Regions from separate parts of the Homo sapiens genome. Here regions 1, 3 and 4 are each linked to region 2. The links come from fine-mapping of genetic effects on gene expression. A gene starts in region 2. Each other region holds a variant in brackets. All regions are shown on one strand. Distances are from middle to middle. Region 1 has its middle 62 kb from the start of XRCC2. Region 2 holds the start of LINC01003 (long intergenic non-protein coding RNA 1003). Region 3 overlaps GALNTL5 (polypeptide N-acetylgalactosaminyltransferase like 5). Region 4 has its middle 37 kb from the start of LINC01003.

Region 1 (8,107 bases), 150 kb before region 2:
TTGTCTTAGTCTATTTGGGCTACTACAGCAAAATGCCATAAATTAGGTGGCTTATAAACAACATAAATTTATTTCTGGCAGGTTGGATATCTGGTGAGGGCCTGCTTTCTGGTCCACAGATGAAGCCTTCTCATTGTAACCTCACATGGTGGAAGGGGCAAGGCTGTTCTCTGGGTTCTCCTTAAAAAGGCACCAATGGCCAGGCACGGTGGCTCACGCTTGTAATCCCAGAACTTTGCAAGGCTGAGGTAGGTGAATCACGAGGTCAGGAGTTTGAGACCAGCCTGACCAACATGGTGAAACCCGGTCTCTACTAAAATACAAAAATTAGCCGGGCATGGTGGCGCATGCCTGTAATCCCAGCTACTCAGGAGGCTGAGGCAGGAGAATCACTTGAACTCGGGAAGCAGAGGTTGAGGTGAGCCGAGATCATGCCACTGCACTGCAGCCTGGGTGACAGAGCAAGACTCCATCTCAAAAAAAAAAAAAAAAAAAAAAGTAAAGGATGAGCACTGAATTAGAAATTGATAGAATCAGGTTGTCAGAGCAGCCCTGCTGTTCATCAATTGTGTCATCTCCTACAGATCACTTTCTTTTCCTTCTTCCCCTCTTATTGACCAACACAGTAATAAGTAATACATGTCTTCCTTTGGATCAAATGACAAAGTATAGGTTTTGAGCATAGAACAATGAGATTTGCTTTCTTTTGAAGTTTCTAAAACCAGTCTCCTTACTTTATAATCAGGCTATTTTATGAAAACATTTAAAAAAATACACTTTAAACAAGTGAATTTGCAAGTCACTGACAAGGTCTGTTCTCCTGATGGCCTCCTGAGCTCTGTCACTGAAATTCATCTGTCCCTTTCGGCTTCCTGCATGACCTCACCCTGTTCAGCAGCACGGAAGAATACTAAGAATTGACTCCCATTAAGCAACCTCCTAAACAAAAAGTGGTTTGATAGGCAATAGCCTCAGAGACATAACTGTACAGTGAAATCCAGATCATTTCCACAGGCGTCTCTTCCGTGCCCGTCTGCAGCACTTATTCTAAAAGAAAACACTGGTGAAATTTTAAGGATTTCTCTATAATGTGGTAATTGGTATTTGAAATTGCCTTAAGTCTACATTGAAAAGTCATACGGTACTAGTTTGGGAAAATATGAATCAATGTTTTAACAGAAATGCAGTTTCAGTGTTCCTTTAACACACACATACAACTTAAATGAGTTGCGGGTGCCAGACCTTCTTTTAATGAGTGGATCATTTGCAATGAACCTGATTGTGAATCCAATGCCTTAAAAGCAAATGCTTTAAGTGCTTACACAGGTTGTTCTAGATTATATTTGAGGTCAATAACAAGAACACATTTCACTTCATTTTTTAACTTTACAATAGTTTTACTTCAATTGCATTCAGAATTATTTTTTTTTTTTTTGAGATGGAATCTTGCTCTGCCACCCAGGCTGGAGTGCAGTGCTGCAATCTCAGCTCACTGCAACCTCCGCCTCCCCAGTTCAAGCAATTCTCCTGCGTTCAGCCTCCCCCGTAGCTGGGACTACAGGCACTCACCACCACATCCAGCTAATTTTTGTACTTTTAGAAGAGATGGGGTTTCGCCATGTAGCCCAGGGTGGTCTTGAACCCCTGAGCTTGGGCAATCCACCCACCTTGGCCTCCCAAAGTGCTGGGATTACAGGCATGAGCCACCGTGCCCGGCCCCTGTTCAGAATTCTGGCAATTGTAGTGCAAGAGGGACAAGAATCTGCCTCTGCACAAAGTTGCAAAATAATACTGTGGTTCTTTTCTCGTCTAATTTTCATAAACTCTTAACAACAAGCATGTTATTTCTGGAGAAACAAAATCACAGTTTGAATTGAATATAATCTTTATATATAATCTTACAGAGGGACTTTTTGTTCCTGAACTCCTGATAAGAAAGAACTTTTTATGTGACCCGTATCCAACTTGTGCAACTTATCTAAAGTAAGCTCACAAATGTATTTTCTCAAATAATACAATACATACTTCATTATAATAGCCTTGAATTTCCAAATAGGTTGAAAACAAAACTCCTTGTGAGTGGGAGGGGTAGTTTTAACCAAAAAATCAATTAAGTGAGAAGATTTGGTGGTGGTGGTGGGATTAGAAATCCTCATTTTATTTTGTTCTCATAAGCATTTTAAACTGTCCCTCTGGAATCACGTTGTTTTTGAACTTGCATGGATGGTAGGATTCTTTAAGGTAAGGACCAGGTCCTACTCATCTTTGTTTTCTCCGAAACCAGCATATCATTGGTTGAAATAATTCCCATGAAAACTGCCATTCTCTCTGGTGTGTGGACACAATTTCTAACTGACAGGGATCTGAAGTATGGATTTTCAGTAGCTGCTTACGAGTCACTGCACTGAGTCTGCTTATTACAGAAAACTGCCTGACTCAAAGCTCAGCTAAGCCCCCTTGCTTAGCTGCACCGAACCTTACAGAGCATCCCTGTCTGCACTGACCTTGGCCTCTGCCACTCTCCCAGGACACGTGGTTTGTTTCTCTGAGAAGCAATTGTGGTAATGCCACGTTGGGCAGACAGGCTTCTTCAGTGGTAGACCACAGTCAGGAGGAAAGGAACACTCTCTAGGGGACAGCGTTTCACTGGGTGGTTTTCCAGGGACGGTGCGTTGGCAGCACCCACGGTAGGGTGTGTTGGCAGTGTTGGCAGCACCCACCCTGGCCAGGCCTGTGCCTCTGCAGGGCTGCACCCTCCCCAGAAGGCAGTCCCTCCCGCCAGCCTTTCCCTAATGGATTTCCATTTCTATCGATTGGGGACTTAGACGCCGGCAAGCAATTAGTCCTCATCAGGCAGCAGGAGTTTCCTAAGGGGACTGCCAGCTAGTCTAATTGCTGGCAGCTGTGGGGACACTCAGCTGCCAGGCACAGGCTGTTAACCCCCAGTGTCCCGGGCTCCAAACAGTCTCCTGACCTAGCACAGTTCCTCACTGTGGCATGAATTTGGAGATGGCTGTTCTTTATCTTGGAATACTCTGTTGAGAGATTTGCTTTACTCTTCAAAGACACTTTGAGATAAAGTGTGAAGTGCTCAACCTTGCTCTTTAGCAGGAAAATACCTCAGAGAGGAAAAAGCAAAGGAGGATTTACAACTGGTTTCTAGGCCAGCGTGGTAGCTCAGGCCTGTAATCCCGGCACTTTGAGAGGCCGAGGCAGGTGGATCACGTGAGGTCAGAAGTTCAAGAACAGCCTGGCCAACATGGTGAAACCCCAACTCTACTAAAAATTCAGAAATTACTCTGGACATCTGTAATCACAGCTACTCAGGAGGCTGAGGCACATGAATTGCTTGAACCTGGTAGGTGGAGGTTGCAGTAAGCCGAGGTCATACCACTGCACTCCAGCCTGGTCGACAGAGAGACCCTGTCTCAAAAAAAAATTTTTTTTTAATTGTTTCTATTATGGGAATTCTCAAAAACTCACAAAAGTAGAATAAGCCCCCATATACCCCATATATACCCCCATATACCTGTCCATCAGTGAATTCTCTACCTTCTGCCATC[C/T]TTTTTGGCCTATTCCCCCCACCTCCGCTTTTTTTCTTTTTACTAGAGAATTTTTAAGCAAATACCAGACGTATCATTTTACTTATAAGTGCTTTAGCATGTCATTCTAATATAGTTTAATACAATTTTTTTTTTGAGGCAGGGTCTTGCCCTGTTGCCCAGAGTGAAGTGCAGTAGAGGGCAGTGGTTTGATCGTGGCTCACCGCAGCTTCAAACTCCTACACTCAAGCGATCCTCCCGCCATGACCTCCTAAGTTAGTAGCTGGGACTACAGGCGTGCACCACCACCCCCAGCTAATTAAAAAAAATTTTTTTAGAGACACAGTCTTGCTATGTTGCCCAGCCTGGTAAAGATATTTCAAAAAATAACCATAACATAATTACTGCACCCCCAAAAAACAGTTCCCTAATAAACAGTTCCTTAATATCACCCACTATCCAGGCATGTTCACATTTCCACAATGCCTCAAAAATGCCTTTTCAGGCCGGGCACGGTGGCTCATGCCTGTAATCCCAGCACTTTGGGAGGCCGAGGCAGGTGGATCACGAGGTCAGGAGATCGAGACCATCCTGGCTAACACGGTGAAACCCCATCTCTACTAAAAATACAAAAAATTAGCCGGGCGTGGTGGCGGGCGCCTGTAGTCCCAGCTACTTGGGAGGCTGAGGCAGGAGAATGGCATGAACCTGGAAGGCAGAGCTTGCAGTGAGCTGAGATCGCGCCACAGCACTCCAGCCTGGGCGACAGAGCAAGACTCCATCTCAAAAAAAAAAAAAAAAAGGTCTTTCTGATGAAAAAATGGCCAACATCATTAATCATCAGAGAAATGCAAATTAAAACCACAATGAGGGCCAGGCACAGTGGCTCATGCCTGTAATCCCAGCACTTTGGGAGGCCAAGGTGGGTGGATCACAAGGTCAACAGATCAAGACCATCCTGGCCGACATGGTGAAAGCCCGTCTCAACTAAAAATACAAAAATTAGCTGGGCATGGTGGCACACACCTGTAGTCCCAGCTACTCGGGAGGCTGAGGCAGGAGAATCGCCTGAACCCAGGAAGCAGAGGTTGCAGTGAAGCCAAGATAGTGCCACTGCACTCTAGCCTGGGTGACAGAGTGAGACTCTGTCTCAAAAAAAAAAAAAAAAAAAAAAAAAAAAACACACATGAGATATCATCTCACCCCAGTTAAAATGGCTGTCATCCAAAAGACAGACAATAACAAATGCTGACAAGGATCGAAGATGTGGTGAAAAGGGAACCCTCATACACTGTTGGTGGGAAGGTAAATTAGTACAGCCACTATGGAGAACAGTATGGAGGTTCCTCAACAAACTGAAAATAGAGCTACCACATGATCCAGCAATCCCATTGCTAGGTATACACCTGTGTATTACTCTGTTTTCACACTGCTGATAAAGACATATCCCAGACTGGGAAGAAAAAAGGTTTAATTGGACTTACAGTTCCACATGGCTGGGGAGGCCTCAGAATCATAGTTGGAGGCGAAAGGCACTTCTTACATGGTGGCGGCAAGAGAAAATGAGGAAAAAGCAAAAGCGGAAACCCTTGATAAACCCATCAGATCTCATGAGACTTATTCACTATCATGAGAATAGCATGGGAAAGACTGGCCCCCGTGGTTCAATTACCTCCCCCTGGGTCCCTCCCACAAGACATGGGAATCCTGGGAGATACAATTCAAGTTCAGATCTGGCTGGGGAAACAGCCAAACCATATCAACCCCAAAGAAAGGAAATCAATGTATCAAAGAGATATCTGCACTCTCATGTTTATCACAGCACTATTCACAATAGCCAAGGTTTGGAAGCAACCTAAGCCTCCATCAACCGACAAATGAATAAAGAAAATGTGGTACATGTACACAATGGACACGTACTCAGCCAAAAAAAGAATGAAATTCCGTCATTTGTGACACAGATGGAACTGGAAGACATTACATTAAGTGAAATCAGGCACAGAAAGACCAATTGCACATGTCTCACTCATATGTGAGAACTAAAATTTAAAACAAACTCATGGGGATAGAGAATAGAATGATGGTTACCAGAGGCTGGGAAGGGTAGTGGTAGGTGTGGGGGTGGAGTGAGGATGGTTAATGGGGGCAAAAATATAGTTAGATAGAATAAGATCTAGCACAACAGGTGACTACACTAAACAATAATTTATTGTGTTTATACACACACACACACACACACACACACACACACACACACACACACACGTATTTTGAGACGGAATCTTGCACTGTCGCCCAGGCTGGAGTACAATGGTGCCATCTCAGCTCAATTCGACCTCTGCCTCCTGGGTTCAAGTGATTCTCCTACGTTCAAGTGATTCTCCTGCCTCAGTCTCCCAAGTAGCTGGGATTACAGGTGCCTGCCACCATGCGCAACTAATATTTTTTGTATTTTTAGTAGAGACAGGGTTTCACCGTGTTGGTCAGGCTGGCCTCAAACTCCTGACCTCAGGTGATCCGCCTGCCTGGGCCTCCCGAAGTGCTGGGATGACAGGCATAAGCAACCGTGCCCAGCCCTATTGTATATTTTTAAATAGATAAAAGAGTCTAATTTTCCATGTTCCTAACACAAAGAAATGATAAATGCTCAAGGTGATGGATACCCCACTTACCCAGACGTGATTATTACACATGGTCTACCTTTATCATCACATGCACCCATGAACATATATACCTATTATGTACCCATAAAAATTAAAAACTAGGCCGGGTGTGGTGGCTCACAACTGTAATCTCAGCACTGTAGGAGGCCAAGGCGGGAAGACTGCATGAAGCCAGGAGTTCCAGACCAGCCTGGGCAACAGAGGGAGATGCTGTCTCCACAAAAAATAAAAAATTAGCCAGGAATGGTGGCGTGCACCTGTAGCCCCAGGAACTCAGGAGGCTGAGGCAGGAGGATCACTTGGACCCAGGAATTCAAGGCTGCAGTGAGCTATGATCACTCCACCACACTTCAGCCTGGGCAACACAGCCAGACTCTGTTTCTAAAAATAAAAGACCAAACAACTAAAATAATTAAAATGTCTTTTCAGTTTGTTTGTTTTTTGGGGGGACGGAGTCTCTCTCTGTCACCCAGGCTGGAATGCAGTGTGCAGTGGCGCAATCTCCGTTCACTGCAACCTCCGCCTCCCAGGTTCAAGTGATTCTCCTGCCTCAGCCACCTGAGTAGCCGGGATTACAGATGTCTGACACCACACCCAGCTAATTTTTTGTATTTTTAGTAGAGATGGGGGTCTCACCATGTTGGTCAGGCTGGTCTTGAATTCCTGACCTCAGGTATCTGCCCACCTTGGTCTCCCAAAGTGCTGGGATTCCAGGCGTGAGCCACCGCACCCGGCCTTTTCAGTTTGTTTGAATCAGGATGAAATCAAGGTCACCCTGAACTTAGTTGTGATTGCATGACGAGGTCGTCATTTGTCCTACACAATTTTACAGTCTAAATGTGGCAGATTATATCCTCAGTGCTCTTTTTTTTTTTTTTTTTTTTTTGTTGAGACGGATTCTTGCTCTGTCGCCCAGGCTGGAGTGCAGTGGCGCGATCTTGACTCACTGCAACCTACGCCTCCCGGTTCAAGAGAGCCTCGTGCCTCAGTTTCCCAAGTAGCTGGTATTACAGGCACCCGCCACCACGCCCAGCTAATTTTTGTAATTTTAGTAGAGACAGAGTTTCACCATGTTGGCCGGGCTGGTCTTGAACTCCTGACCTCAAGTGATCCACCTGCCTTGGCCTCTCAAAGTGCTGGGATTACAGTCATGAGCCACCGTGCCTGGCCGCCTCACAGTGTTCTTTTATGTGCTCCTTTAGCCCCCATATTTTCTATAAACTAGTAGAAAAATTTAGACCATTCATGAGAGTTAGGTTTTTTTTGTTTTGTGTTTGTTTTTGTTTTTCAAGAATACCTTGGGCTGGGCGCGGTGGCTCACACCTGTAATTCTGACACTTTGGGAGGCCGAGGTGAGAGGATCACTTGAGCCCTAGAGTTCAAAACCAACCTGGGGAATAAGACAAAACCCAATCTCTACACAAAATACAAAAAATTAGCCGGGCCTGGTGCCACGCACCTGTGGTCCCAGCTACTCAGAAGGCTGAGGTGAGAGAATCGCTTGAGCCTGGGAGGCTGAGATTGCCGTGAGCCAAGATCGTGCCACTGCACTCCAGCCTGGGTGACAGAGCGACAAAGAAATACAAAGAACAAACAAATAAAAAACCCAAGAATACTTTATAGGTGGTGCTGTGAACTTGCTTTTGCTTTTTATTCAGGAGGCACAAAATCTCTCACTATCCAATAATGTTAGAACTGATCAGAGTTCAAATGTTGTCAGCCTGACCCATCTATTCTAAAGTTCCCTATTAACATTTCACCCAATAATTTTAGCAGATATTGATAATCAGTGGCTAGAATGATTTTGTTAGGGTTTACTAAATGGCAGCATTCTAATGTTTTCATTCCTTTGGCATATATTAGCTATAGTTCTTCTATAGAGAAGAATTCCCCCGTCATGTT
Region 2 (8,107 bases):
ATCCAGGAGGCGGAGGTTGCCGTGAGCTGAGATCATGCCACTGCACTCCAGCCTGGCGACAGAGCAAGACTGTCTCAAAAAAATAAAAATAATTAAGGCAGAATGTTTCTAATTTTCATCTTTAAGAGGAACGGAAAGAAGTAGATTTCTTCGGCTGGGCGCGGTGGCTCATGCTTGTAATCCCAGCACTTTGGGATGCCGAGGCGGGCGGATCATGAGGTCAGGAGATCGAGACCACGGTGAAACCCCGTCTCTACTAAAAATACAAAAAGATTAGCCGGGCGTGGTGGTGGGCGCCTGTAGTCCCAGCTACTCGGAGAGGCTGAGGCAGGAGAATGGAGTGAACCCGGGAGGCGGAGCTTGCAGTGAGCCGAGATCGCGCCACTGCACTCCAGCCTGGGTGACAGAGCGAGACTCTGTCCCCCCCCCCCAAAAAAAAGGAGAATTAGCTTTCTTCTGAAATTAGACGTTAAGGCCAGGTTCCTCACACCTATAATCCCAACACTTTGGGAGGCCGAGGTGGGTGGATCACCTGAGGTCAGGAGTTCGAGACCAGCCTGACCAACAAGGTGAAACCCCGTCTCTACCAAAAACACAAAAATTAGCTGGGCATGGTGGCAGGCACCTGTAGCCCCAGCTACCTGGGAGGCTGAAACAGGAGAACTGCTTGAACCCGGGAGGCAGAGGTTGCAGTGAGCAGAGATCACGCCACTGCACTCCAGCCTGGGCAACAAGAGTGAAACTCCGTTTCAAAAAAAAAAAAAAAGAAATTAGACGTTAAAAAAAGATGTGACACATCATATCAAAATTGTCTACACTACATTAAAGGAGTTAAAAATACTGAAATGCAGCAAGACGAACTTGTCTCGAGACAGGGTCTTGCTCTGTTGCCCAGGCTGGGGTGCAGTGGCGCCATTATGGCTCACTGCAGTCTCGACATCCCGTTCTCACGCAATCCTCCTGCCTCTGCCTCTTGAGTAGCTAGGTCTACAGCTATGTGCCACTACGCCCAGCTAATTTTTTGTATAGATGAGGTTTTGCCTTTTTTCCTTTCTGTAGAGATGAGGTTTTGCCATGTTCCCTAGGCTAGTCTCCAACTCCTGGGCTCAAGCCACCATCTGCTCTGGCCTCCGAAAATGCTGAATTACAGGTGTGAACCACTGTGCCTGGCCGCAATATCATTTAGGATTGCATTTTGTTTAGATTTTTTAATTCTTTAGTTTTTCTTATTATGGTAATATAATAGATCTAGGAGCTAAATTCCAGTATTCAATTTTTGTACAATGATATGCAATTCATTCTCATGATTTGACAGTGTTGACTTTCTATTATTGACAATCTCGTGATCTGAAGAAAAACACTTGTGGTTTTATTATCTTTTTAGTGGGTATTAAGATCAAAATGATGAGCACAAAAAAAAAAAAAAAACGAAAAAAAAAAAGAGGGCCGGGCTCATGACTATAATCCCAGCACTTTGGGAGGCCGCGCCGGGTGAATAACGAGGTCAGTAGTTTGAGTCCGCCTGGCCAACATGGTGAAACCCCATCTCTACTAAAAATACAAAAAATTAGCTGGGCATAGTGGCGGGCGCCTGTAATCCCAGCTACTCAGAAGGCTGAGGCAGGAGAATCGCTTGAACCCCGGTGGCAGAGGTTGCAGTGAACCGAGATCGCGCCACTGCACTCCAGCCCTGGTGACAGAGTGAGACTCCGTCTCAAAAAAAAAAGAGAGAAGAAAACAACCTTCAGTAGGAATAGATAACAAAACATTTGAAATAAGATATATATTTATATACCCAATGAGGGCTAAGAGTTTCTAGCACTGTTGAGGTTGCCAATTGGTCAAAACAGAAAGCAACGATTCCCTTTGGAAAATTAGCTGGCAGTAAGGAACTGGCTACAATGACAAGCCAATAACCATATATGAAAGGTCTCTTTTTGTTGCTTTGTTTGTATTTAATTTCTATTTAAAAGATTGGAACCTCTATTCCTACCTTAATAGCATTTACTAAATGTTAATAGCATTTACTATTTATATTACTATTTATAAATAGTATTTATAAATGTAATAAATATGGTAGTTCAAGTGTAATACTACAGCTAATTATGAATAAGCTCATTCTTAATGTTGAATTTAAGGAACATATATATCTATATATAGATATCTATATATAGACCTATATATCTATATATAGATATCTATATATCTATACATATATCTATATAGATCTATAGAGATCTCCATAGATCTATATATCTATACATACATCTATATAGATCTATAGATATCTCTATAGATCTATATATCTATACATTTATCTAGATATATAGGTATCTATATATATCTATACATATATCTATATAGACCTATATATAGATATCTATAGATATATACTTATATAGACCTAGATATAGATATCTATATATCTATATCTTTATATATCTATATATATATATAGATATAGATTTTTTTTTTTTGAGACGGAGTCTCGCTCTGTTGCCCAGGCTGGAGTGCAGTGGCACAATCACTGCAACCTCCGCCTCCCGGGTTCAAGAAATTTTCCCGTCTCAGCCTCCCAAGCAGCTGGGACTGCAGGCACCCGCCACCACGCCCAGGCTCATTTTTGTACTTTTAGTAGAGAGTGGGTTTCACCATATTGGTCAGGATAGTTTCCAACTCCTGACCTCAGGTGATCCGCCTGCCTCGGCCTCCCAAAGTGCTGGGATTACATGCGTGACCCACAGCACCCGGCCATATTTTCTTTCTATTTTTTGTAAATAAAAAAACATACGTCTGTACATTCCGTACATAGTAATATTTTATTTTCTTCCCAATGTGGTAACTAAAATACATTTAAACGAAGGCTAGAATTTAAAACAAAATTCTTTTACTGATAAGCACACTTGCAAAGTAATGAAAATGTTACATGCATTGCTTTGCATATAAACGTCCAAGAAGTATTTGTTGACCAAATGTCTGAAAATGAAGTATTTTTATCTGTTCCGAAACGCCATAATATTGCAAAGAAGCATTTCAAATTATTGTTGTGTGAAATGTTCAAATTTAGCATTCAAATTTAGCGTTTTCCCACATTTTACCCTTCAATTTACACAATTTGGAAGAAGAGTAGATGAGTTGGTCATTGTTACTTAAAACAATGCGTCACCTTGTTAGGGAAAGAAATTAACATAATGGTCAAGGAGTGATAATTAAACAGAACATGACATTTGCTGTCCATTCAATGTTAAAGTTCTAAGCAAATTAGCATGGAGAAAAGGGATGGGTAGAAATAATAACAGAGCACTAGTTGATTAGTCCGCCTCCACATCCACGCTGCAGGCGTTGGACAGATCCGGCTTTACTGAGTCCACCATGCAGGGAAATGGACGCGCGGGCTAAGCGGAATCCCAGGGGCGCGATCGCACCGGCTGGCGTTCCAGCAAACCCTGCATCCCAGGCCCTGGATTCAGGCTGCCTTCTGAGTCTTTGACTTATTTTCCTTTGCCTGGAAACAGAACGCCGCGGTCCGTACCGGAGAGGGAGAAAGTGCAGGACGACCCGCCGGGAAGACCCGAGCGCGTGCGCCTTCCCCGCGGCTCCACGGGCACAAAACGGTGGCTCCGGAGCTCCTAGACCCAGGCAGCCCCAGCTGCGCGCGCGCCTCCCCCCGAGCGCGGCCGGGCTCCCGCGGGAAACAAGCGACCGCGGCACGCGTGGGCGCGGCGGGTGGGTGCCGGCGCCAGGTTCCTCCCGGCTCCCCACTGCGGATCCTCGCGGCTCCTCCCGGCTCCGCCCAGCGGCTCACCCCGCGGACGGGGATCCCTCCGCCCACCGCCGGCCCTTCCGCGCCAAGTAGTGCGACCCCGGCCCCCGCAGCTTCCGCCAACCCAGGCTCGCGAGGACGAGTCCACGGTCGCGGGCGAGAAGGAGCGACGCAGAGACGGCCGGGGGCGCGGGGCAGTCCCGAGGTTTTCCCCGCGAGGCCGCGGGGGGTCTCCCAGTGGCCAGGGAGAGAGCGCGCCCAGGTCCGCGGAACCACGGCTCCTGCCGCGGCGAGCGGGCCGGGAGTCTACGGTCGGGGCAGAGCCGCCCGGGAAGCCGCGCGAGGACGGCGGCCGGCGGCCGGCGGCGGAGGCAGGTGTCCCGAGGCCTGCCCCACCCCCACTACCGCGGGCAGGAAGAGGAAGGAGCCGCGGCCGTGCCTGGCGGGCGGGGGTGCCCGACCCGCGGAGCGCGTGACCTAGTTCGTCCCAAAGTGGATTTGACAGGTTGTCAGCTCCACTCCCCGCCCCCACCGCCTTCCGGGTCTCCCTCCTCTCGGGGGGAGGCCCACCGCCCGCGGTCCTCGGCTCGGCCTCCCATTGGCTCTCTCGCCGCCTGGCGCCCCGCCCTCTCGGTATCACCCTTCCATTGGCTTGGGACCCCGCCCCTGCCCCTAACTCACCCTCCCACTGGCTTCGTGCCGCCTGGCACCCCGCCTCAGCCCAGAGGACCCGGCCCGCCCTCCCATTGGCCTCGCACCGCCTAATTCCCCGCCCTCGCCCCGGCCCGCCCTCCCATTGGCGTCGTTTCGCCTAGTGCCCCGCCCTCGCCCCGGCCCGCCCTCCCATTGGCCTCGAGCCGCCTGGCGCCCCGCCCCTTCCGCGGGCCCCGCTCCCAGCGCAGCCCGGCTCTCTGCTTGTCTGCGGGTTCCTGCGGGCGTTCCTCAGTGTCTGCCTTCTTCCTTCCCTCTTGAGTGTTGCTCCTCTTCCTCTCCTTTTTTCCATGTCTCTCCTTTTTCTGATCTCCTCCCGTTTCGGCAGCCCGAGCGCTCTTGCCCGGTTGCACCCCGCAGCCTGAGCTGGGCTCCCGGTGCCGGCTGCCTGAGCTCCAGGACCTGCCCTGGGGCCCCCTACAACCTTCCCGCCGCTCCCGGAACCTGACCCCTCTGTGCTTCACTTCTCGGTTTTCTTCCCTGAAATAAGCAGCAGCGAATCCCTTCTCCAGGTTTTCTCATGTGTTCAGTCTGCAAGGCTTCTCCCTTTCTCCACCCTGCGCCTCGGTTTCTCCCCCGCTTCCCCGCCCTCCCTAAACTCAGCCAAGTGGAACAGATCTCCCAGCAAAACAAGGCAGAGGGCGAGGATAAAAATGATAAATGTCAATATCAACATTTTTATTGCTTTAGGTTTTTAAAACAGAAAATTAGCAGGAACGCCCAGATCGACCCAGACCTAGGATCAAGATGGAGTTTCTTAAAGTACCAAGTGAGACTGCAGTGACAAAGTCGATTATCCCAGCAATATAATCAGCTTTGCCTGGGGAATTTACTTTTACTTTGTTTTTATTTGTTTGTTTGCTTTGAGATGGAGTCTCGCTCTGTCGCCCAGGCTAGAGTGCAGTGGCGCGATCTCAGCTCACTGCAACCTCCGTCTCCTGGGTTCAAGCAATTCTCCTGCCTCAGCCTCCCAAATAGCTGGGAGTACAGGCGCCCACCACCATGCCCAGCTAATTTTTGCATTTTTAGTAGAGACGGGGTTTCTCCATGTTGGTCAGGCTGGTCTCGAATTCCTGACCTCAGGTGATCCGCCCGCTTCGACCTCCCAAAGTGCTGGGATTACAGGCGTGAGCCACTGCGCCCGGCCTACTTTTAGTTTATGCAGTATTCTGGCGATTTAAAGTTTGTATTTTTTTTTTAATTTTCTGAGCTCGTTTTGTAAATGGCTGCTCTTGAACGTAAGGATAAATTGACTGATGAGGCTGAGGTTTGGAGCCAATCCCCGCACAAGGCATTTGGCATCAAACACGAGAAACCCTTGGCTATTCAAATGAGGAAACTCAAGTAACTTTCCCAGGGTCACTAAAGTCGGAGACCTCAAACGTGGACCCAGGTCAGGCTCCAGAGGTCCACCAGGACGACCCATCATGGCTCATGAATGTATCCGTAAAAATGGCAGAACTGCTCTTTCCAGCTGCCTTCCTACCTATCATGGGGGTCCTAACCGAGCTCCCCATCATGACATTCAAGGCCTACCTTATAGGATCCCTGCCTTACAGGAGCAGTTTCAGTGCAGCAGGCACACTGACCACCTTTCTGCCAAGACCTTTTTGCCAGAGGGCCTTTGCACTTGAATTTCTTTAGACTTTTCGCCTGGCTTAGCTCGTCTGTCACCTTGGGGAGGCATTTTTCTTTCTTTCTTTGTTTCTTTCTCCTTTTTTTTTTTTTGAAACGGAGTCTTGCCCTGTCGCCCAGGCTGGAGTGCAATGGTGCGATTTCAGCTCACTGCAACCTCCGCCTTCCAGGTTTAAGCGATTCTCCTGCCTCAGCCTCCTGAGTAGCTGTGATTACAGGCACGTGCCACCAACCCTGGCTAATTTTTGTATTTTTAGTAGAGATGGGGTTTCACGATGTTGGCCAGGCTGGTCTCAAACTCCTTCACCTCAGCTTACAGGTGTGAACCACTGGGCCCAGCCTCTCCTCTCTTCCCTGCTCCCCTCCCCTCCCCTTCCCTCTTCTCTCTCTTTTCTTTATTTTTCTTTCTTTCTTCCTTTCTTCCTTCGTTTCTTCGTTTCTTCCTCCTTTCCTTTCCTTTTCCTTTTTTTGAGATGGAGTCTCACTCTGTCGCCCATGCTTGGCTCACTGCAACCTCTGCCTCCCAGGTTCAAGTGATTCTCCTGCCTCAGCCTCCCTAGTAGCTGGGATTACAGGTGCCTGCCACCACACCCAGCTAATTTTTGTATTTTTAGTAGAGACAGGGTTTCGCCATGTTGGTCAGGCTGGTCTCGAACTCCTGACCTCAAGTGATCTGCCCACCTCAGCCTCCCAAAGTGTTGGGATTACAGGCATGAGCCACTGCACCTGGCCTCTTTTTCTTTTTTCTTTCTTTCTCTTTCTTTCTCTTTCTTTCTTTTTTTTTTTTTTTTTTTTTTTTTTTTTTGAGACAGGGTCTCTCTCTGTTGCCAAGGCTCCAAGGCTGGAGTGCAGTGGTGCAATCTCGGCTCACTACAGCTTTGACCTCCTGGGCTCAAGTGATCCTCCCACCTCAGCCTCCCAAGTAGTGGGGACTACAGGTATGCACCACCACACCTGGCTAATTTTTTTAATTTTAATTTAATTTAATTAATTTATTTATTTTGAGACAGAGTCTTGCTCTTTCACCCAGGCTGGGGTGCAGTGGCATGATCTCGGCTCACTGCAACCTCCACCTCCTGGGTTCAAGTGATTCTCCTGTTTCAGCCTCCCAAGTAGCTGGGATTACAAACACCCACCATGGTGCCCAGTTAATTTTTGTATTTTTAGTAGAGACGGGGTTTCACCATGTTGGCCAGTCTGGTCTTGAACTCCTGAGCTCTACCTGCTTTGGCCTCCCAAAGTGCTGGGATTACAGGCATGAGCCATGGCACCCAGCCAATTTTTTTTGTCTTTTTTTTTTTTTTTGTGGAGTCTGGGTTTCACATGGTGAAACCCCAGGCTGGTCTCAAACTCCTGGGCTCAAGTGATCCACCCACCTCGGCCTCCCAAAGTGCTAGGATTCCAGGCTTGCACCCCCTCGCCTGGCCTGGGGGAGGCATTTCTGACATTGTACCTAAAGTACCTTTCCCCGCTCCCTATCATATCACCGTGTTTTCCTCAGAGCTCTTGGCACAGTCTGAAATCATTGTTTACTTACTTATTATGGTCTGTTCTCCTTCATCTCCCTTCCACCATTAAGATGTGAGCTGCTGGACACAGGGGCCTTTTCGGTGTTTTTTCTGAACTGTATCTTCAGGGCACAAGGTGAGTGCTCAACAAATCGTTGATGAACAAATGAACAGGTACATTTGCTGTGACCAAATGGACTAACCAAACTGTCCTTCCCTTTGGATTCTGCCACAATTGTATAGACATACCTATAAGTAAGAAAGTTGGGAGAATAGCTATTTTGTTTTTAAATATTTTGTGTTTCTTTGATTCGTGTACTTTATTTCCTGCAATTTTTGAAAACAAATTAGCAACTTTAATTTGTAACAAAAGGATTAAATAAATATCCTCCCCCCCTTTTTTTTTAATCCTGCTATTTCGTGACAAGGAGAGTGGGAAGGCCATTGTCCCAAGGCCACTGTGTTGCCTACTTTTTTTCCAGCTGTTCAC
Region 3 (8,107 bases), 460 kb after region 2:
AGAAAATGTGGTATATATACACAATGGAATACTATTCAGCCATAAAAAAGAATAAAATGATGTCTTTGGCTGCAACATGGATGGAACTGGAGGCCATTATCTTAAGTGAAACAATCCAGAAGCAGAAAGAGAAATACACATGTTCTCATTTATAAGTGGGAACTAAATAATGTATACACATGGACATAGAGTGTGGACTGACAGGCATTGGAGACAGAAGGGTGGTGACAGGAGGGCAATGGATGATGAGAAGTGACTTAATGGGTCCGGTGTACATTGTTTGAGTGGTGGATACTTGGAAAGTCCAGACTTTACCACTAGGCAATATAGCCATATAACAAAATTGCACTTGTACCCCTTATATTTATACAAATAATAATAAATCAATAAAATAACAAAATAAAATTTATTTTTTCTTTTAACCTTTAAAAAATAACTTATGTTTTCTTATACATATTATATATTTTAATGTAACATACAATTATAATATATGTAATATGTATAATATATATTACATATAATAGGTACATATTTAATCACACAAAGGTATACTGACAGAACATTTTTTATGGTTTGATTTTTTAATTTAACACATGAGAAGTTTTCTTTCTAGTTAATTAGCCCTTGAAAACTTAACTTTAATGATTATGTGATAGTCCATAAAAATGAATATACTTTATTTTTTACCCATTTCAATAGTATTGAATATGTTGTTTTCAGTTTTTTATGAATATAAATATTGACACACTATATATATCTCCGTGCTTATTTCTGACTCTCTTCAAATAAATTCAAGTAAGTGGATTACTGCATCAAAGAATAAGGATATTTATAAGATTCTTAATTTGCATTGCCAAATTGTTTTCAAAAAGAATGATCCAATGTATATACACACGAGCAGTGTATTAGAATTCTAAACATTTTACCATTTAGCAAATAAATATTAGGAATACAGTTTCCCTGTTGAATATCAGTTATTTTTACATTAGAGCCTAAAAATGTTTTATATGTGAGATATGGAAATATTACAAAAATTATAAACCAAGTTTGTGTAATTGGAACACCATAGCTATTTCTTACTAAAAGTAACTATTTAAAATAGTTTTGAGATAACTCAAAAGATTAATGCTGTTTATTTTTATTAAGTTGAGATTTCTACATATTACATTTTATTACAATAAAGTACACTTTTGTTCCTCTTTGTTCCAAAGTCTGTGACATTACTGTAGCTAATGTTGATATTGATCAGATCACTTCCTCTGTGTCAAGCCTTATGCTATGTGTTTTACATGTATTGGCTCATTTAATCCCCTCAACGATCCTAAGAAATGTGTTAATTATTACTATCACTGTTTAACAGATGAGGACGACATTGAAGTTGAGAGAGGTAATTGTGCCAACTGAGGGCCATCTTAATGTACAATTCCAGACATGCCATTGACCTTGTGGTCTTTGTGTGAACAGTATCTCCTGGAGATGTGCAGTGCACAGCTGGTGCAACTGTACATGGCAGCCCTAAACTGCTAACAAATGATGGAGTCTCTCCTTCAAACCAGATCTGTTTGACTTGAGCTTTTAGTCAAATGAAATATTGCTCCTGAAAGTCATGATTGAATCCATATAGGATTGTGTTCAGTACCAGAGAATCAAAGAGTTATAGATGATATGAAGATAAATATCATATCACGTTATATATTGAGTCCTAAGTGATTCTATTAACAATAATTCTATTACTGTATTAAAGACTTCTAGAAACAAGTAACATAACATTTTGATTAAGCCCAAGAACTTGAAAGAATAATCTCTGGAGGCTTTTTCCCCCTGGGTCTCAATACACGTATGCTATATTTTTCCAAAACCAGAAGAAATCTCACCGGATTGGTTTAGTAGATCCTTCTGGTCCATCCATCTCATAAGAGAAAACATTATCCCATTTAAATTGTAGGTTCCAATCAAAAGTTCCCCTTACAAGAGGAGAGGGCTTATACTCCAGAGTTCTATCATCAATGACATCTATCAGGGGGCACACCACCATTTTGGGGTCCTTGGCAATGGCATGCAGCAGGGGCTCCAGCCATACTCTGTTCACCTCACAGTGGCTGTCCAGGAACACCAGAACATCCCCTGGGGAGGCAAGAACAGGGCAATGTTAGTCCACATAGCTGAAAAAATACGGCAATCCAAATCAAAGTTCAATGTGATGAATATTTCTTGAGCATTTACTATGTGTTTGGCTCTTACAGTGCTTTCATTTTCATTGGAAGGAAACAAGAAATACATTATTATGTACAAAAATATGCAACATCATGTGCCATAGATGTTGAGGGGAAGCCAGTAATTGTGGGTTAGAGAGTGGTTTTGGGGAGAATTCTAAAGGAGCAGGTGGAACTGAACTGGATTTCCATTTTAAAAAATGATTTTAGCTTGGTCTTGACTGATCAGCTTAAATTTAGCAAATTTTTACTGAAAGGACACCTTCTTAGGCATTGAGTTTGGTGCATGGGATGCAGACATGCATCACGACTTTTGCTCTTGAGTTCAAGTTTTTTTTTTTTTCTGAGATGGAGTCTTGTTCTATCACCCAGGCTGGAGTGCAGTGGCATGATATTGGCTCACTGCAACATCCGCCTCCCGGGTTCAAGCAATTCTCCTGCCTCAGCCTCCCAAGTAGCTGGGATTACAGGTGCCTGCCAACATGCCAGGCTAATTTTTGTATTTTTAGTAGAGACGGGGTTTCACCGTGTTGGCCAGGCTGGTCTCGAGCTCCTGACCTCAGGTGATCCGCCCACCTCAGCCTTTGAGTTCAAGCTTCAGTGGGGACCTATTCTGCTTAGAGGACATGGGAATAATTGGCATGGTTAAAGTAGAGAAAGTGTATTATTGAAGTACACCAGGGGCTTGATGTAGAAGGAACCCCAAACTTCAAGTAGCAGAGTTTAGACTTTTTCTTGTAGCCAGTGTAAAATCATTAGAAAGGTATAAAAAAATCTCATGTTTTGATCAGAAGACTTAATATGGCAATAACCCCCATACTAATCTACAGATTTAGTGCAATCCCTATTGCAATCCCAGCTGGCTCTTTTTAAAGAAATTGATCCTAAAAGTCATATGAAAAGGCAATGGACCTAGATTAGCCAAAATAATTTTGAAAAAGAAAAATAAGGTTGAAGGGCTTTCTGATTTCAAGGGTTACTACAAAGTGATAATAATCAAAACAGTGTGCCATTGGTGTAAGGATAGACACAGAAACCAGAAATAAACCATGTGTCTATGGTCAATTGATTTTTGACAAGGGCCAAGACAATTCAATGGAGAAAGTATAGTCTTTTCAATAAATTGTGCTGAGGCAACGGAATATCCACATGCAAAAGAATGAAGTTAGACCCCTACCTCATATCATACTAAAAATCAAATCAAATGGGTCATAGACCTAAGGTAAGAGCTAAAATTATAAAACTCAGAAGGAAACATAAGCATATATTTATGACCTTAGGTGAGGCAATGGTTTCTTAGATATGACACCAAAAATACAGGGGACATAAGAAAAAA[C/T]ATATACGTTGGAATTCATCAAAAGCAAAAACTTTTGTGCTTAAAAGACACAATCGAGAAAATGAAAAAAAAAAAATGGCTGGTGCGGTGGCTTATGCCTGTAATCCCAGCACTTTGGGAGGCTGAGGGGGGTGGATCACCTGAGGTCAGGAGTTCAAGACCAGCCTGGCCAACATAGCGAAACCCCGTCTCTATTAAAAATACAAAAAAAAAAAATTAGCCAGGTGTGGTGGTGGGTGCCTGTAATCCCAGCTACTTAGGAGGCTGAGGCAGGAGAATCACTTGACCCCAGGAGGCGGAGGTTGCAGTGAGCCAAGATCGTGCCACTGCACTCCAGCCTGGGTGACAGAGCAAGACTCTGTCAAAAAAAAAAAAAAGAAAGAAAAAAAAGAAAAGAAAAGAAAAAGAAACAAAGAAAGAGAAAAAAATCCACAAAATGGGGGAAAGTATTTCCAAATCATACATATACTAAAGGACTTGTATGAGAATATATAAATAATTCTTACAAGTTAGTAATAAAAAGACAACCTGATTTAAAATGCGCAAGAGATTTGAATAGACATCTTTGCAAAGACGTATAAATGGCTGATGAGCATGTGAAAAGATGTTCAACACCATTAGTCATCAGAAAAACGTTAATAAAAATCACAGTGAGGTATCCCTTTACATCCACTAGGACGGCAAGAATGAAAAAGACAGACAATAGCAAGTGTTGGGGAGGTGGTGGAGAAATTGAAACACTTGTCCAGTGCTGTTGGGAATGATGGGTGGGAGGGGAGGAGTACAGAGAACAGGAAAGTTCTCTCTTGCCTGAAGGGCACTCTCTGGGCTGAGTTCTCTGAGGGTGTGTGGCTGGCAATAGCAACTTTGAGGACCTCCCTTCTCATCCCTGGTGGTCTCTGGTCAGCAGTTCCCACAAACTGGGCAAGTGCATTCTATTCTGGTGACTCAATCTGTCTTCTCAGCTCCTTAAGATCCTGTGTTCTGTCTCCAGCTTCTCTGCTGAGGCCTGTCCATTCTTCTAGATAGTCCTACCGGACACCATCTAAGATGATCCCTATAGCTCTCTCTCCAACACTGCCAAAGCAAACTCTGCCATAAATACAGCTACTAATCTAAAAGCAAGTGTCCTTTGTTCTACAGCTGGTCACAGTCTTTTTATCCTTTTGATTTTCGGCAGAAAACTAACATTAGTTCACTTCTCCTCAATCCCAATATATTTCCAATTTTATTGTATTGATGTCTGAGAATGTGCTGAATTCATATCAAGTCTCTCTCACCAGGCTTTGAGCAGTAGCTTTCTCCAAAAATCTCCTTTAATCTCTAACAACATGACTCAATCTGGCTGAGCCATCTCATTGGTTCTCAGATCTCTATTTTGAAATATCTTTATCGTGGTCAGTCTAACAACTCACTTTGGAATATTACAGCTATGATTTTCATGCCTCAACCAAAACTGAGCTAACAAGAGTCCCATTTTTAACACATATGTTTTCATACTATTGGCAGCACACACACAGCTTTATACTTCACATTTTTCACCTAAAATAGCTTCTATAATATTACGTAACATTATTAGCATTTTAAAATCATGTCTGCTCATTTGATAGGTGAAAAATAACATCTGGTTCTCCTAAGAAGATGTACGAATGGCTAGCAAGCACACAAACAGATGCGAAACATCATGTCATTAGGAAAACACAAATCAAAACCAACGTGAAGAACCACTTCACTTCCACTAGGATGACGAGAACTTAAAAAATGAAAAATAAGTTTTGGCAGGGATATGGAGAAATTTGAACTCTTACACATTGCTGGTGGGAGTGTAAATGGTGCAGCCACTGAAGAAAAGAGCTTGGCAGCTCCTCAAAAAATTAAACCTGGAATTACCATAAGACCCAGCAATTCTATTCCTAGGAACATGCCCAAAAGAATTCAAACAAATGTATATATGTGCATGGTCACAGCAGTACTGTTGACAACAGCCAAAAGAGGGAAACAGCCCAAATGCCCATCAATGGATGAATGGAGAAACAAACTGTGGTGTATCACAGAATGGAATATTATTCAACCATAAAAAAGGAAGCACTGACACATCCACCATGTGGATGAACCTCAAAAATATACTAAGTGAAAGAAGCCCGACACAAAAAGTTACATATTGTATGATTCCGTTGATATGAAATATCTAGAAAGAGACAGAACACAGATAGGTGGTTGCCAGAGACTGGAGGGAAGGAAGCTGCTTAATGGCTAAAAGACTTTCTTTTCAGGTAATGAAAATGTTTTGGAGTTAGAGGTCATGGCTGTACAACATTGTGAAGGTGCGAAATGCTACTTAATTGTTCATTTTTAAATGATCAGTTTTATGTTAATCGTGCCTCAATTTTAAAAAATCTGGTTAATTTTTTTTTAATCGCTGGTGAGGTTGAATTTTCCACATGATTAGCCATTTGTAAATGAAATTGTCGTGTACTTTGCCTATCGGAGTAGTTTTGTTTTTTGTTTTTTTTTTTTTAGATAGAGTCTCGCTCTGTCACCCAGGCTGGAGTGCAGTAGCATGATCTCAGCTCACTGCAACATTCACCTCCTGGCTTCAAGCAATTGTCCTGCTTCAGCCTCCCAAGTAGCTGGGATTACAGGCACCTGCCAACATGTCCAGCTAATTTTTGTATTTTTAGTGGAGATGGGGTTTCACCGTGTTGGCCAGGCTGGTCTCAAACTTCTGACTTCAAATGATCTACCTGCCTCAGCCTTCCAAAGTGCTGGGATTATGGGCGTGAGCCACCATGCCCAGCTTGGAGTTGTATTTTTAATGGATTTTAAATGTACATTTTACATACTAAAAATATTAACTTTTAGTCCTGTTACATTTCCCCAGCCTACTGTTATTTAATTTTATTATTTTTTATTTGCAGCAATTTTACATTTTTTTGTTAAAAAAATAGACTTTTTTTTAGCACCTTTTCCATTGGTTTTAAGCTTTGAAATTTCTTTATTCATAAAACAGGCAAGTATTAATCTATGTTTTTATATTTTTAAATTATCCCTTAAGAAGTTTGATGATGATGATGTTTTTACAGAGACAGTCTCACTCTGTTGCCCAGGCTGGAGTGGAGTGGTGCTATTATAGCTCACTATAACCTCCAACTCCTGGACTCAAGCGATCCTCTTGCCTCAGCCTCCTGAGTAGCTTAGGACTACAGGTGTGCACCAACACACTCGCCTACTTTTTTTAATAAAAATTTTTGTAGAGATGGTGTCTCACTGTGTTGTCAGGCTGGTCTTAGAACTCCTGGCCTCAAGCAATCCTCTTGCCTTGGCCTCCTAAAGCGCTAGGATTACAAGCATGAGCCACCACACCTGGCTATGGTTTGATTTTTTAAAATAAAATTAACATTAATCCAGTTATAATTTATTTGGGTTATGGTATGAAATAAAGACCTAAAATTTTCCCAAATGGCTAATTGTTTAAGTGGCATTAAACAACAACTGCAACAAAAACATTTTAAAAGTCTTTTTTCCCATACAGATTTGTGGTATCTCTTTACTGTATACAGTGTACACTTGTACCCTTAATATTGAAAGATTTAAATATTTGCAACTTTGAGGATTCTAATGACCCAGAAAGACCATAAATGCAATATTAAAAATTGCAAAATAATTTAAAATTATACTTTATGCAAAATTAATATGGGGTATTACTGAATTTTGATTTAAGTTAAAAACGTGGGAACAGGCCACCTAGCACCTACATTTCAATGAGGTTTTATTTTCACTCATCATAAAATATTTAACAGGGGAAATTTACATCCTGTAAGGAGAGCAAAGTAGTAGTGAGGGTCCCTCTTCAGCTGATTTCTCTCCTTCACAGGAATATTTTGTGGAAACCTAAAGTTTGGTGCTAGGAAAGGACGGTTGCTCTACTTCTGCTGCCTTCGAGAGTTTCGGGAAGGACCGTGCTATTTATTGGTTTTAGAGATGGCCTATCATTCATGTGCTAGATGACCTATCAGACATTCATCAGATTCTCTTTAGTGCTTGTGATGAGTAAAGGGCGTGAGGTCAAGCCTGCCTGATAGAGGAATTCTTCCCCTACTTGCTTCCAAAGAGTATTTGTGGAAATATTCTAAACAATTCCATTGCTCCCTAAAGTTTGGAGTTGGGAGCTACGTCCTCCATCTTACCCTGTGTAGAAGCTTATTTTCTGCTCTCCTGTCGTAGTCTATTTGCACCATTTCTCTAGGGATTGTGGATTGCAACGTTTGTTAACTTGTTTTTTGAAAAGCAACAAATAGCGTATGTATCAATTTCACAGTATTTCCTGTTTTTCTCTGTTTTGTATTTATTTTCGTTCTTTGGTTAGTGTCCACATTTTCACCCTTAAACGTAACTCATTATATATAATTTATTTTACATCACATTAAAATTCTCAGTTTGGTCTCTACAACCAAGCATTTTTAAAATCTTAAAAATATTTTTTCTTTTTTTTTTACCTACACGTTATGTTATTGCTGTATCTTGTTTTAATTTGTTTTGTGAGATGAGGTTGTGATGT
Region 4 (8,107 bases), 37 kb before region 2:
GAGTTTCATCATGTTGGCCAGGCTGGTCTAAGAACTCCAGACCTCGTGCTCCACCCGCCTCGGCCCCCCAAAGTCCTGGGATTACAGGCGTGAGCCACTGTGCCCGGCCGTGTTGGGGCTACTTTCTAACTACTTCTGACTGATCACTTTGGTGACAAAGGAAATGCTGAATAGATAAGGGGAATCCAATTCTTTTGAGAGTGTCTTTTCAAAGATCCTGCCCACTTTCAGTGAAATAAACTAGACGAATTCCAGGAAGTGTGGACACTGAAAAAACTACAGTAAAGTTCTAGAAGATTACCCCAAGTCCTGGCTGACACCAGCACCTGCTCACAGAGTCCTTCCTTAACAGAGCTGACCAGGGTCTGCATCTGGTGCCAGGTCGTGAAACCTCCAGGAGGGACTAAGTGTGCCCCCTGAGCTAATTGTGGAAGGCAGCTGGGGAGAGGGCCAGCTCCAACCAGCTCTACCAGTTTTCCCCAAGGCCATAGGCAGATCTCCTGGGAACGTCTCCTGAGCTCATACCTATCATGGTTTCAGTGTTCCTGCTTCTGCTATGGGAGAGGATCAACAAACCATTGGTGGGGGGTGGGGACTGCAGTGAGGACAGAGCTTTAATGCCAACTGGACGAGCATGAGCTGTAACTATTTGGCTGTCCTTCTGAATTTCTATTGCTCTGCAAATATTCTCTGAAGAGCAGCAATGAGCAAGGTGAAGCAGGCAGATGTGGGTGAGACTGGGCTGGTATCACCCCACCCATCCGCCCAGCTAAGCAATCTTGGGCAGGCCACTTGTCTATGCCTCAACTTCCTTGTCTGCTAATTGGGGACAATACCCTTATAGGCTTGCGTGGAGATTTAATAAGTCTCACAAAAGTCTCAGAACGAGGCTGGCTTCAGGGGTATGCTGTTAGTGCCGTGACACAGCGTCCCCATGCTCAAAAGGGTCCCACACTTGGGACTGAATGTTCTGCAGTCATCATCTTGAAATTCTTTATTTTTTATTTTTTTGATATGGAGTTTTGTTCTTGTCACCCAGACTGGAGTGCAATGGCACGATCTCGGCTCACTGTAACCTCCGCCTCCCAGGTTCAAGTGATTCTCCTGCCTCAGCCTCCTGAGTAGCTGGGATTACAGGTGCGTGCCACCACACCCAGCTAAGTTTTGTATTTTTAGTAGAGATGTGGTTTCACCATGTTGGCCAGGCTGGTCTCGAACTCTTGACCTCATGAGATCTGCCTCAGCCTCCCGAAGTGCTGGGATTACAAGCATGAGCCACTGCACCCAGCCTGAAATTCTTAATGATTTTGTCTTTGAATTTCTGTTCCCACAGGGCAATGGAGTGCGCATGCATCATGGACTTGTAGTGCAGTGTGTGGTCCCACCTCCCTGCCTCCCCCTGGCAGGTTCCTGACTGCCCATTCCCCTGTCCCCTGCACCCTGGGTTCCATGGCCCCCTCCCCACTCCCACCTGGCCACCTGGCCACCCTTCACTCTGGGCAGGGCCTGAGTGTGGGTGCAGGAGGATCAGGGTAAGGCACGTGTTCCCTGGTGTCTTGAGCACACAGCATGCTCCCGAGCACCCCCGGTGGGGGCAAGCCTCTTGCCTGCTGCCTACCCAGGTACCTAGTGTGTGCTGGTGCAAACTTTGCAATGCCTTGGAGGGTGACCTCTCTGCCACAGATTGGGTGGTAGGCTCCTGGCCCCTAGCCAGGGCATGGTGCATTGGTCTAGTGGCTAGTCAGAGTGGGGCTCAGTGGCAGATGGATGCGCCTGTGAACACAGAATGGTAGGGCAGGGACCCCAGCCCTTGGGAGCGTCCCCACTCCTCCAGGAGCATCCTTGATGCTGCAGGGAGTATAATATTCAACAGAAGATTTACAAACAGGACAGTTACACAGATAGATCATGAAAAAAAGAATACTTTGTATTTGGTACCCTTTTTTTTTTTTAAGACAGGGTCTTGCTCAGTTGCCCAGGCTGGCATGCTGTGGTGCAGTAATAGCTCACTGCAGCCTTGAACTCCCGGGCTCAGGCCTCCCACCTTGGCCTCCTGAGTAGCTGGGACTAGGTGCACAACACCACGCCTAGCTGATTTTTTTTTTTTCTGAAGTAGAGATGAGGTCTCACTACGTTGCCCAGGCTGGTCTCAAATTCCTGAGCTCACACGATCCTCCCAGCTCAGCCTCCCAGAGTGCTGAGATTATGGGCGCAAGCCACTGTGCCCGGCCTGTACTTGGTACCTTTAACAGCACTTTTCTCTGCTGTTCGAACAAGGAGCCCTGTGTTTTCATTTTGCCCTGAGCCCTGCAAATTATGCAGCTAGTCCTGCTGAGAACATTACCTGGCACACAATAGGTGCTCAATCAAAGTTAGTAAGTAGAATTATTATGACAATATATACATTCCCTGTGGAGTCATGTACCTGAGAGGACCATTCCACATCTTCACATGTAAGGATAAGGGTCATGTCTGTTCAGTATCGCGTGGGTCTTGATACAGCATCTTGTGTTAATATGAACATCCAGCCGAGCGTGGTGGCTCATGCCTGTAATGCCAGCACTTTGGGAGGCCGAGGTGGGCAGATCCCTTGAGGCCAGGAGTTACAGACCAGCCTGGGCAGCATAGTGAAACCCCGTCTCTACTAAAATACAAAAATCAGTCGGGCCTGTAGTCCCAGCTATTTGCGAGGCTGAGGCTCGAGAATTGCTTGAACCCGGGAGGTGGAGGTTGCAGGGAGCCAAGATCACACCACTGCACTCCAACCTGGGCCACAGAGCGAGACTTTGTCTCAATAATAATAATAATAATAACATAAACATCCACAGCAACAGAAGATGACATTGATTGCTGCGGTGACCTTTAGCATTCAATTTTTTTTTTTTTTTTTTGAGACAAAGTTTCACTCTTGTTGCCCAGCCTGGAGTGCTATGGCACAATCTGAGCTCATTGCAACCTCCGCCTCCCAGGTTCAAGCGATTCTCCTGCCTCAGCCTCCCAAGTAGCTGGGATTACAGTTATGCGCTGCCACACCCAGCTAATTTTTGTATTTTTTTTAGAGATGGGGTTTCACCAGATTGGGCAGGCGGGTTTGAACTCCTGACCTTGTGATCCGCCCACCTTGGCCTCCCAAAGTGCTGGGATTACAGGCATGAGCCACCACCTTCTTTCAAAGAGCCAAGCACTAAATCTTTATTGAATATCTACCTGGGGAGTAGACAATCTACCTGAATCTAGGGAAGCCTACTATAACAATTCTTTAAAAGGGGATTCAGCTCCAAGTGATGTACTGTGAACTGTACGTGGCATGGGGACCCAGAGAAGGGAGGGATCAATATGGCCTTAGAGCAGTGACAAGCTAATCTGAGTCACATCAAAAGCATCTTAGACTCAATGACACAGAGTGCTGGGCCCCCCAGGGTTGCCAGCTCAGTAGGTCTGGGGTTGCAGGAGTGAATTTCCAGTCCCAGGTGACACTGCTGCTGCCGTACTGTGCTTTGAGAACTACTGTTGTAGACTAGACCAATCCAGGAAGCCTTCATGGAGGAGAAGATCAAGACTTAGTAATTAGCGCAGTTAGTTGATTGGTGGGAAAGAAAGCAATTGCAAACAGAGGGAATGACATGAACATAGGCACAAAATCCAAAATGAGAGTGTTTTGTGTGTGTGCGGGGAAAGGTTTTAAGGAGACAAGGGTGACATGCCTCCTGGTAAGATATTCTGTTCTGATGAGCTATGACTGTGCACTTCTCTCCAAAAAATAAAATAAAATAAAATAAAAATTTTCAAAAATTGGCAAAGATAAATCATGCTATTAGAATAAAATTTTTTTTACTTCTGTTGTAAAACCAGAGTTGTAAGCCATGAAAGTAGATATTATTTTTCTCTAACCCTGTCACCAAAACTCTGTGTGTGTGTGTGTGTGTGTGTGTGTGTGTGTGTGTGTATTGTCAACCCAAAATATCTGAGACAGGTCTCAGTCATTTCAGAAAGTTGATTTTGCCAAGGCTAATGACCACTCGTGAGACAGCCTCAGGAGGTCCTGCGGACATATGCCAGAATGGTCAGGATACAGCTTGCTTTTATACATTTTAGAGTGACATGAGACATCAATCAATATGTGTAAGATGTATATTGGTTTGGCCGGGCCCGGTGGCTCATGCCTGTAATCTCAGCACTTTGGGAGGCCGAGGTGGGTGGATCACCTGAGGTCGGGAGGCCGAGGCAGGTGGATCACCTGAGGTCGGGAGTTTGAGCCTGACCAACGTGGAGAAACCCCGTGTATACTAAAAATACAAAATTAAACAGGCATGGTGGCGGGCGCCTGTAGTCCCAGCTACTCAGGAGGCTGAGGCAGGAGAATCGCTTGAACCCGGGAGGCGGAGGTTGCAGTTGGCTGAGATCGTGCCATTGCAATCCAGCGTGGGCAACAAGAGCGAAACTCCATCTCAAAAAAATAAAAAATGAAAAAAAGATGTACATTGGTTTGGTCCCAAAAGGCAGGACAACTCAAAATTGGGGCTTCCAGGTCCAGGTAGATAAGAGACAAAAGACTGCATTCTAGTCCGGGCACATTGGCTCACACCTGTAATCCCAGCACTTTGGGAGGCCAAGGCAGGGGG[A/G]ATCACTTGAGACCAGGAGATCAAGACTAACCTGGCTAACACAGGGAAACCCCTTCTCTACCAAAAAAATACAAAAATTAGCTGGATATGGTGGTGCACCTTTAGTCCCAGCTTCTCAGGAGGCTGAGGCAGGAGAATTACTTGAACCTGGGAGGCAGAGGCTGCAGTGAGCCGAGATCTCCTCACTGCACTCCAGCCTGGGCAACTGAGCCAGACTCTGTCTCAAAAAAAAAAAAAAAAAAAGGTTGCATTCTTTGGAGTCCTTGATCAGCCTTTCACTGAATACATAACTGAGCATGACTCAGTGAATCTGCATTTTTACATAACCAGTAGAGGAAGCAATCAGATATGCCTTTGTCTCAGGTGAGCAGAGGGACGGTCCCTCATCTGTAAAGATAAGCTATCAATTTACATTGCCAGGGTGAAATTCAACAGAACTGTTTTAGGGTAAAGATCTTGAGGCCCACAAGGAATTTCTCTGGGGGCAAATTGTGAGGAAGGTATGTAGCTTTTATTTATTTATTTTTATTTATTTATTTTTAAGACAGAGTCTGCTCTGTTGCCCAGGCTGGAGTGCCGTGGTGCAATCTTGGCTCACTGCAATCTCCGCCTCCCGAGTTCAAGCCTCCTAAGTAGCTGGGATTACAGGTGTGCGCCACCACGCTTAGCTAATTTTTGTATTTTTTTAGTAGAGACAGGGTTCCACCATGTTGGTCAGGCTGGTCTCAAATTCCTGACCTTGTGATCTGCCTGCCTCGGCCTCCCAAAGTGCTGGGATTACAGGCGTGAGCCACCACACCCAGCCATGTAGCTTTTTTCTAATTTACTTTTTTTCTTTTTTCTTTTTTTTTTAAAATACCACAATCAGGCCAGGTGTGGTGGCTCATGCCTGTAATCCCAGCACTTTGGGAGGCCAAGGCAGGTGAATCACGAGGTCAGGAGATCGAGACCATCCTGGCTAACACGGTGAAACCCCGTCTCTACTAAAAATACAAAAAAAAGAGCCAGGCGTGGTGGCGGGCGCCTATAGTCCCAGCTACTCGGGAGGCTGAGGCAGGAGAATGGCGTGAACCCGGGAGGCGGAACTTGCAGTGAGCCGAGATTGCGCCGCTGCACTCCAGCCTGGGCGACACAGCAAGACTCCATCTCAAAAAGATAAATAAATAAATAAGAAATAAAAATACCACAATCATGATTACATGAGGTATATAGCTTTTTTATCTTTGTAACTATCTTATTTAGGAATAAAATGGGAAGCAGGTTTGCCTGACACTTCCCAGCCTGACTTTTTCCTTGGCTTAGTAATTTTGGGGTCCCAAGATTTATTTTCCTTTCACACTATATAGAAAATACCATGTTACAAAGGATGAGAACACTCCTGAAATTAAAGTATTGGTCCCTTGGAGAGCTTTCTTTTACACTTTCTGTTTGTTTTTTCAAAATTCAGTTTATGACACTATTCCACTGTAAATAGTCCCTTTAAAAGTCCTAGGTCTTTAAATATTTATCTGAGAGCTTCAGTTAAAGCTCTCAGTGGCTACTGATATTTTGACTTTGTATTCTCTGCAAATCTTTAATAGTATACAGCTGCCATTTTTGTAAACATTAGTGGTAAGAAGAATAATTTACTGAAAATAACAAAGTTTTACAGAAAACAGACCTGGTTCATATTCAAATTTTGCCATGTCTTAGGAACTTGTCTAATGCCTTTAGGAAATAAATAATGACAGCCTGGCACAGTGGCTCACACCTGTAATCCCAGCACTTCGGGAGGCCGAGGTGGGCAGATCACAAGGTCAGGAGTTCGAGACCAGCCTGGCCAACATGGTGAAACCCTATCTCTACTACAAAAAGATACAAAAGTTAGCCGGGCGTAGTGGTGGGTGCCTGTAATCCAAGCTACTTGGGAGGCTGAGGTAGGAGAATTGCTTGAACCCGGGAGGCAGAGGTTGCAGTGAGGCGAGATTGCGCCACCGCACTCCAGCCTGGCAACAGAACGAGACTCTGAAACAAAAAAAAAAAAAAAAGAAAAAAAGAAAAAAGAAAATATATAATGACAACCTATTTGTATTAATGAAGATAAGGTTCAGCAGCAAGTAATGAAAATGCCAACAATCAGTGGCTTGAGCAGATAGAAGTCCATCTCTCCCTTAGATAAAATCAAGGCTGGTTCTGCCATCCCTGGGTGAGGGACCCTGACTCCTCTGTCAGGCTCTTGGCTGCACGTCACTCCATGGCCTCAGGTGGTCCATGCCAGCTGTCTCAGCCCTGGCCTGCTCCTCTGCGTGCTGGCCAGGAGAAAGAGGAGAAAGGGAAGGATGATTTCCAGAAGGTGCCCACTCCAGCTGTAAGAGGGGCTGAGCATTGTAGTGTTCACAGCCAGGTGCCCAGCAAAAAAATCAGGATTCTTGTTACTAGAAAAGGAAAAATGCCTGGGCACAGTGGTTGACACCTATAATCCTGACATTTTGGGAGGCCAAGGCAAGAGGATTGCTTGAGCCCAGGAGTTCAAGACCAACCTGGGCAACATAACAAGACTTCATCTCTACTAAAAATAAAATAAAATAAAAAAGCCGGGCACGATGGCTCACAACTGTAATCCCAGCAGTTTGGGAGGCTGAGGCAGGTGGATCACCTGAGGTCAGGAGCTCAAGACCAGCCTGGCCAACATGGTGAAAACCCATCTCTAACAAAAATACAAAAATTAGCCGGGTGTGGTGGGGGGCGCCAGTAACCCGAGTTACTCAGGAGGCTGAGGCAGGAGAATCACTTGAGCCCGGGAGGCAGAGGTTGCAGTGAGCCAAGATCATGCCATTGCACTCCAGCCTGGGCAACAAGAGTGAAACTCCTTCTTAAAAACAAAACAAAACAAAACAAAACATATATATATAAAATCAGGGTGCAGTGGCATGTGCGCACAGTCCCAACTATACAGGAGGACTGCTTGAGCTATGATTGAGCCACTGCACTCCAGCCTGGGTAACGGGGTGAAACTTTATCTCAAAAAAGAAAAGGAGCACAGATATTGAGGATATGTCATTTAGATTATATCTATGAAATCCCTACTAAAGTTCTATACAAAGGCAGTCACAAAACACTAATTATGACTGTCACCACTATCATATATTTGTGTTGCCCGTAAATGGATCATTGTCTACAATAAGCCAGGCGTGGTGGTGGGTGCCTGTAATCCCAGTTACTTAGAAGGCTGAGGTAGGAGAATCGCTTGAACCTGGGAGGTGGAGGTTGCAGTGAGCCAAGATAGGCCCACTGCACTCCAGCCTGGGTGACAAAGTGAGACTCCATCTCAAGAAATAATTTTTAAAAAGGATCATGTTCTTAATTTATTATTTCTTTTTTTTTTTTTTTTTTTGAGACGGAGTCTTGCCTTATCACCCAGGCTGGAGTGCAGTGGCGCCATCTCAGCTCTCTGCAAGCTCCGCCTCCCGGGTTCACACCATTCTCCTGCCTCAGTCTCCCGAGTA

The links.
Region 1: its variant is fine-mapped to the expression of LINC01003 in stomach (GTEx, PIP 0.90).
Region 3: its variant is fine-mapped to the expression of LINC01003 in ileum (GTEx, PIP 0.98).
Region 4: its variant is fine-mapped to the expression of LINC01003 in minor salivary gland (GTEx, PIP 0.93).

What each region holds. Positions count from the first base shown.
Region 1 is chr7:152,609,999-152,618,105 of GRCh38, reverse strand. No RefSeq gene overlaps it. Among named protein-coding and RNA genes, the nearest start is that of XRCC2, 62 kb to the left of the region's middle. The variant C/T (reference allele first, on the strand shown) is at 3,564.
Region 2 is chr7:152,460,239-152,468,345 of GRCh38, reverse strand. LINC01003 (long intergenic non-protein coding RNA 1003) reads right to left here and starts at 4,222. Exons shown (of 1, transcript NR_027387.1): 1 at 2,801-4,222. RefSeq lists enhancers at 3,297-3,796, 3,797-4,298 and a silencer at 3,571-4,590.
Region 3 is chr7:151,996,731-152,004,837 of GRCh38, reverse strand. GALNTL5 (polypeptide N-acetylgalactosaminyltransferase like 5) reads right to left here. Exons shown (of 9, transcript NM_145292.4): 6 at 1,875-2,124. Among named protein-coding and RNA genes, the nearest start is that of GALNT11, 25 kb to the left of the region's middle. The variant C/T (reference allele first, on the strand shown) is at 3,550.
Region 4 is chr7:152,497,003-152,505,109 of GRCh38, reverse strand. No RefSeq gene overlaps it. Among named protein-coding and RNA genes, the nearest start is that of LINC01003, 37 kb to the right of the region's middle. RefSeq lists an enhancer at 4,701-5,201. The variant A/G (reference allele first, on the strand shown) is at 4,623.